2 linked regions of the Homo sapiens genome follow. The protein of the gene in region 1 purifies or fractionates together with the protein of each later gene. This does not show direct contact. Each region holds a gene or a part of one and is shown on either strand. Other genes may lie near its edges.

Region 1 (3,824 bases):
ATCCTTTCATGCAAGTTTTTTAAAAAGTGGAAAAGGGCTTTGTGGTAGCCAGCCTCCAAGACGGCCCCTATATGTCTCACCTCCTGGTACACATGCCCTTGGACTGACCTGTGTAACCAAAAGGATACTGTGGAAATAAGTGTGACTTTTGAGGCTAAGTCACAGAAGACTCTGCAGTTTCTATCTTGCTTGCTCTTGGATCACTCACTCTGGGGCAGCCAGCTGCCATGCTGTGAGGATACTCAAGCAACCCAGCAGTGGTCCACATGGTGAGGACTGCAGCCTCCCACCAACAGCCAGCACTCACAGCCCAGGCAAATGAGTAAGCCGCCTTAGGAGAGGATTCTTGAGCCTCAGTCAAGTCTTTAAACAACTGCAGTCCCAGCCGACATCTTGACAGCATTCTCAAAAGTGACCTGAGCCACACCACCCAGCTCCCAAATTTCCCAACTACAAAGACTATGTGAGATGTTCGTTGTTTTCAGTTTTGGAGTAATTTGTTATGCAGCCAGAGATCACCAACAAAGGCCTCTTAAAAACTCCTCTATCTACCATAAAACAGGCGCAGAGCCCCTGGCAGCCGCACACACCTCCACACACCTGCCTCTTCTCAACCATGCATGACTCAGGTGGAGACAGAATGCAAAGGCTAGTACTGAATTTGTCTACTCCTTCTTTATTTTTCACTGATGAGCTGAAGCTAGGCATTGAGGAAGCAAAATGTTTTCAATCCCACTGCACTTATCCAGTGATGATTTTTGCTTGACTATTAATTTATATCTAAATCATGCTGCAAGCTTCCAAACTTCTGATGTTTCAACTTCCTAAAATACATTTCATACTTCAGAATAATATGTGCCAAGTTCACACATGTGGAAGATGTATTTTTTGATTTTTTAAACTACTATCACATGACAGGATACTTAAGACGATGCTTTCCCCCATCACACACCCTGCTCTGGCAACATTTTAAGACCCTTTATTTCCTCTGATATGTCTTCTCTTCAGATAGTGAACAACAGAGAGGGATTCACAAATTTCCTGGAGAGAAAAGCTGTATAATATGTTCCAAAGAGCTCTGGATCTGCAATCTTAAAAGCTGAATTCAAAACCCAGGTCCACTACTAGCAGTAAAGGCTCTGGCCTCAATTTCCCAATCTGTGAAATGGAAATCACTTGTGTCCTATCTCGCAGAATCATGGTCATAAAAATCAAACAAGATGCTGCAAACAAAGATTACTTGTTCCCAACACATCTAATAAATAAATACGGCTGAAACAGATAGCTGGTGATCTGCTAGGTGGGAATATTGTAATGGGAAAGCTGGAGATCAATCATTTATTGTCATATTTCCAGCTATGATATAAGAAAGAGGGTCCTCGACTGGCTAGGAGAGTATCTGCATCTGCCAAACTGTCAAGATACATTTTTCATTTGTGAATTAATAAAATACTCCATGCCATTATTATTATTCCCTTGTGAGTCTGGCCATCATCAATCTAAACCCTGGGGATCTAATCATGTTTGTTTGAACTCATAAAATTAGGTCATGTACATGCAAAGGTGAGGGTGAGATCTTGAACTCACAAGTAGCAAAGCCTTTCTAAGCCCAGATTTAATAGTCACCAGGCAATTTAGCAACCTTGGTTATGAAATCTCCACTGAGAGGGTTGTTTTGGGTGGATAAACCATTATCTCCCATCGCTACTCTGGATTTAGGAGAGTGTGACAAAATGGTTTATACCCTCCAAGATTTCCTCTGGGCAGTATAACTGGTAACCTGAAAAAGACACTGCAACTGCTCTTTCATTTAAATGTTTAAATGGCTTTAGGCCACATCCATTTTGTAGGTGGGACATTACATGGCAGCAATATAATTTTAGAAGGACTGCCGGCTCCCAAAACACATACACAGGTAGAAAGTGTCTCTGCCACCCGCAAGTACCAAAGTAAGTTCTACTGCTTTATTCGATGCTTGGGTAAGCCCAAAATGGGGGAGTGCAAGGTCTTGATTTTGTCACTCATCTTAAAAGAAAAATTGTGATTTGATAGTTACTAAAATCTTTCCTTTCTGCAGGTAGACTTTGCTTCCCTGCCCTGGAATTTTTTATTCAGACACTGTTGCTCCTCTGTGGTTCTGCACTCTCACAAGTTTCTGCTGGAAAAACTACACTTTTTTCCCCAGGAAGACACTCCCTTGGGTAAGGCACCATATAGAAGCAGGTGCTTCCTAGGGGCACATTTACATTGTGATAGAGCAACAACAACAAAAAAACACATGACTCTGATCTCATTTATTAGCTGGTTGGAATCTCCAACTTCAGAGCTAAAAATACATGAAAAAACAAAGTAGCTATATCATGCTAAGATTTTCAAGCTTTAAATACCTTAACATGGAATTATACAGTACAAAAAAATCAAACTGTGGAAGAGGCAATCACAGCAAAACATTAAAAATTTAAAATTAAATTAAAAGCATTAGGCTGCGATGCTGTTGAAGGAGCCACATGGGTTGGACTGCTGGACTAGGTAATATGAAAGGTCCTAATTAGTCCCATTATTTCTAGGAAACTCTAATAAAGCATTCCCTTGTTGGAGCAGGGAAAGGATGTTAAACTAAATCCTTAGGAGGATATACTTGTAGACTTGAATGGAACACTTCAATATGTACCTAATGAAAATTTTTCACATAGTATCTGATTAAACATATAACTCAAAGCTTTAGAATAAAAAATCAAAGCCTCTGATTTTAACAAGGTTTCCATGCTGTGTTTTCTATAGCACGCACACACACACACACACAAACAAACACACACACACGTGCAGTCTAAAACATTCTAAAAATACACCATATCAACCTTTTAAGAGATCTGCACAGTCAACTTACAAATTCTCATACACCCGAAGTTACATTAAAGACATTTAATGGGTTGGGTGAGGCTGGCTCATGCCTGTAACCCCAACACTTTGGGAGGCCAAGGTGGGAGGATCACTTGAGCCCAGGAGTTCGAGACCAGCCTGGGCAACACAGTGAAACCCCATCACTATTTTTTTAAAAAAAATTTAAGAAAATAAAATGTTAAAAAAAATTTAATGGGCAAAAGTTAAAAGTCTATGTGTTTGTACTTCTATTAAATGATTCCAATATTCTCCCCATTCTTCCCTAATTTCCTTTTTAAATAATTTTTATTCCTCCTTAGATCTTTGAGTCAATTGAAAATCAAGTTCATTGCAGACCAATTACATCACTTCCCCTTTGCAAATATGACAAATAGCCAGGCCACATCAGGCTCTCCCCTGGGCCTTCCCTGAACATGCAGGCCTAGACTAATGGCACCTCACGCCCACAGTTCATTTGTTCAGCAGGTATAACCTTGCACCTTTTCATTCTTAAAGCCATTTTCCCAAATTACTTAAACTCTGTATTTTTACTGAAATTGTAATAAGTATAGATGTAGGTTGACATTTTTTTTCTGTACAAGATAGTAAATATGTTAGACTTTTGCCAGACATTTGGTCTCTGTTCCAAGTACTCAACCCAGCTATTGTAGAGCAAAAGCAGCCATAGACAATACATGAATGAATGAGTATGGCTGTATTCCAATAACTTTATTTATGGGGATGACAGTGGTGGTTCAAACCTGAAATCCCAGCATTTTGGGAGGCTGAGGTGGGAGGATCACTTACTTGAGCCCTGGAGCTCAAGATCAGCCTGGGCAACATAGCAAGACCCCATATCTACCAAAATATATATTTCATATATATATAACTTGATGGGCCCTGAAATTTTGTTTTGTTTTTTTTTAAGAACTACTTTATTGAGA
Region 2 (3,824 bases), on another chromosome or scaffold:
TAATTTAACTACTTTAAGATTTTTCTAAAATTATTTCAAAATCATACACTATATGCCAAATGTTCTCTAAAACTGAGGTTTAAATAATTCTTTATTCAAATTATTTCTCAAATGTTTCAGCACTGAACTAGGCACCAGGTATAGACACTATTATTTCATCCCCGGTGCCTAGATAGGGCCTGGCGTATGGTCAACACTCAGTAAATACTTCACAGGGGAAATGAATGAATTCTCCCTTTAACTAAAAAGATAATTAGATCAGTCTTTCTCTTTGCAGTATGTAGTAAGAGCTATATAAAAAAGTAGCTGTAATTTAGAGTGAATAAATTAAAATCTGTAAATAAAAAAATCTGTGCTTTACTAAGACAGGGAAAGCAAACCAGATGGGAAGAGGAGAAATTAAAAGGAGTCTGACAAATTCCACCCAAGCAAAAGATGCAGACAATGAAGACAACTTCCCCCAAAGAGCATTAATCAGATTTCTTAAGTGATTAACAATTTGTGAATTCTGCAAACTCAGAAAAAAATAAAAGCAGAGAGTTAGTGAATCAATAAATAAGCAGAAAAACAGTATTACAAAACCTTAGATACCTCCTTAAAAAAAGCTCCATGAAATTCACTAAAAATACAGGAATTAAAATACAATAATTTTTTTTTTAACCTGAGAGATCTTCAAACATCTCACAAACATGTCACAAGAAAGGGTCAAGAGGAAAACTATTAATCTCTCCAATGAAACATTTAAAGTTTCATGTACTTTATAGACATATGATTTCTTCAAAATCATAAATTAAAAATATCTATCGACCTTACATAGAATAATTCTACCCAAGCTTGAAACAAAATATTAAATATATCCTTTAGGCTGGGCACGGTGGCTCATGCCTGTAATCCCAGCACTTTGGGAGGCTGTGGTGGGCAGATTACTTGAGGTCAGGAGTTTGAGACCAGCCTGGCCAACATGGTGAAATCCCATCTGTATGTACTAAAATGCAAAAATTAGTCTGGCATGGTGGTGCACGACTGTAATCCCATCTACTCAGGAGGCTGAGGCACAAGAATTGCTTGAACTCGGGAGGCTGAGGTTGCAGTGAGCCGAGATCACTCCACTGCCCTCCAACCTGGGTGACAGAGTGAGACTCTGCCTAAAAAAAAAAAAAAAAAATTATACTTTAAAGGCAACACTAGAAAAACTAAGCTAAAACAAATACTGCAAAAGTCACTTATAGAATACTGGTAATAGAAAGCAGTCTTTAAAATAAGCAAAGAAACTTTAATTTCTTTATTCAGACTTTTCACTTCCAACTTTTCACTATCCATTTTTCTGATGTTATGCTGCACACCTAGACTCACTCCTTCTGATAAGTGTTTCTGCTTCTTTATACATTTTCTAATCATCAGTACATTCAAGTACTTCCCCCAAGAAGCACCATGGTTTTTGTATTATTGAAGGAAAAATGTGTTTGCCTAAATAATTTTTCATATTTAGTATGAATAAATCACAATAACATATAGTGTTCTGAATCTGAATCAGAATCAAACATTCAGGCAGAAGTAACTTTTCTATGAAATTTTGATAACACAAGTGATATGATAAAGGGAAAAAGCATACCTGTTGCCTTTTCTTCTTGGACAGGTATCTTCCATACCAGTGGAAGGAGAGACAGAAGAAGAGTCAGGAGTTCTTCTCTACATGTCAATGCCTATGTCAGTAACAAAAGAATCCTTCATGTTCTAAGGCGATAAGACACATCAGTTCCTAATGTCTTGTCTTAAACTGAACCAAAAAATCCTTTTTCTTGAAAGTCTGCATTTGAAAAGCTAAGAATCAAATTAACCTATCTTCAATCCAGTTAAAGCTGTGATACTTTTAAGTTTATAAGCCTTTCTAATGATAGAAGAATCTAAGAGTATTTGACAGTATTTAGCACACTCCTGCTGATATTTCCAAAAATAGCTGTTATTACCACCATGCACATTGCAAGAATTCCTTACCTATGAAGAAACAGATTTGCTAGGTGAAAATGAAAAGTTAAGCCCTATTAATTAGCAAAGCAATGCTACAAAGTTACTAGAAAAATGTGAAGCCTTCATGCAGTTAAATGAAAAACTCAGAGACGATTTTAAAAGAGAAATTGACATTATTAATAAATAATATATAAGGAGAGAAAGACTTATTAGTGAATGTAATCCAATAAATATTTATTGACTGCATACTATGTCCACAAAAATACTGTCTTACCCTTTCTGGAGGATATGGTCCAAGCCCTGGAGAAGGTCCCCTCATTTGGTCCATAAAATACATACACATAAACAGTTAAAGAACAGCAGAAGGCATGTAGTATGAGTAAGTATCCAGGGGTGGTAGAAGCATTCAGTTTAGGAGTTCAGAAAAAGGAGCAGTCATTATCAGAAGTATGGAAGGAGAATGGGAGCTAGAGAGCTAGACCTGGGACACCTGGGACATGGGTAGTAAAGGATTTAACGACAAATCAAGTTTGAGTTCTCGCCTTACACCAATCAGTGGGAGAGGGGGTCGCATGATGACACAATCAGATTTGCTGAACAGAATTAGTTGGAAGGGGAAGCAGTGTTAGAGGCAGGGTAACAATAATCCAGATGAGAGAGATGATGACTTTCTGAAGTACTCCAACAACAGAAGGGAAAAGGAGACATATTTGAGAAACTGTAAGGTAGAACTAAAATAACTTGCAGTTGATTATCTATGGCACATAAGGGAGAAAAGAAAAGATCTAAAAGGACCCACAGGTTACTGGTTTCAGCATCTAGGTAGCTGATAATGTATTCACCAAGACAGGAAATTTACAAGTGGTATTAGGTTGGGATAAAGATGATGGATTCACTTTTCAGACATATGGAGTCTGAGACGTCTATGCACTATCCTAATGAAGACAGCTTTTTAGTAGACAGTAAATATATAGATCTGGAACTTAAAAAAATATGAAGTAAATAACAAGATTTAGGAGTAATTGGGGTGGAAGGCAAGAAGATATGTGAATTTTCCCAGGGTGAGAATATAGAATGACAATAGAAGACCATCAAGAATGAAACTCCGGACTTTAAAGACTTAAAGATGGGCAATGCTAAAGAAAAGGCTGAAAAGGCTTCTATTGAAAAATAGCCCCAAGAAAGAGAAGTACAACCAGAGAAACCAAGGAAGAGACCAGTTCAGGAAAGAAAGGAGTCAGCAGGGCCAAAGCTGTTGCCCTTTCACTGTGTGACATGATGGCCGAAAAGCATTTAGTAACTGGAATGCCCCTTAACTAACGGCTTTAATGGAGTGATTTGACTGCAACTCCAATTACAATAGGCTGAGGAGTCAAAGGAAGTGAGAAAGTAAAGACAGGACATTCAGACTACTCCTTCTGGTGTCCTGGTTGTGAAAAGGCTCAGAATTCTTCAAAAAAGGGGTTTAGTAAAATCTAAACCCCTTTTTAGGTATAGAAAACCCTTCACGGCAATGATTCCTGTTGAGCTGTCCAGTGTCAGCTCCCTCTGCCACACATGAGCCCTCCGCATACATCTAGCTGGTAAAGGTTTCCCCTGAAAACTACTGGTCTCTGTGCTCCCAATAGGTCTTCCTCACATACACTGTTTCTGCAATTCTCCATCCCCATCCTCCCATCTGCCAAACTGCAACTCATTCTCTAGGTTTTTAGTTCCTCTGTGGGGAGACTTCTCTAACACCCTACCTGCTTCCCTTAGTAAACTTAGCTTTCATGTTCCTGATTTGCTTCCATTCCAGCAAACACCCTGCTGAAGTGTTACTGTCTGAATGCCCATTTTCCTCTTTTATCCGTTAA

The links.
Region 2: the proteins of TACC1 (region 1) and LYST purify together in Homo sapiens (affinity purification with mass spectrometry; one large-scale study listed by BioGRID and IntAct). This does not show direct contact.

Annotation. Positions count from the first base shown.
Region 1 is NC_000008.11:38,793,542-38,797,365, reverse strand, and holds part of TACC1 (transforming acidic coiled-coil-containing protein 1), read right to left. Parts: intron 1-3,824. UniProt on the Homo sapiens protein: Involved in transcription regulation induced by nuclear receptors, including in T3 thyroid hormone and all-trans retinoic acid pathways. Might promote the nuclear localization of the receptors.
Region 2 is NC_000001.11:235,811,359-235,815,182, forward strand, and holds part of LYST (lysosomal-trafficking regulator), read right to left. Parts: intron 1,704-3,824; coding exon 1,613-1,703; intron 1-1,612. UniProt on the Homo sapiens protein: Adapter protein that regulates and/or fission of intracellular vesicles such as lysosomes. Might regulate trafficking of effectors involved in exocytosis.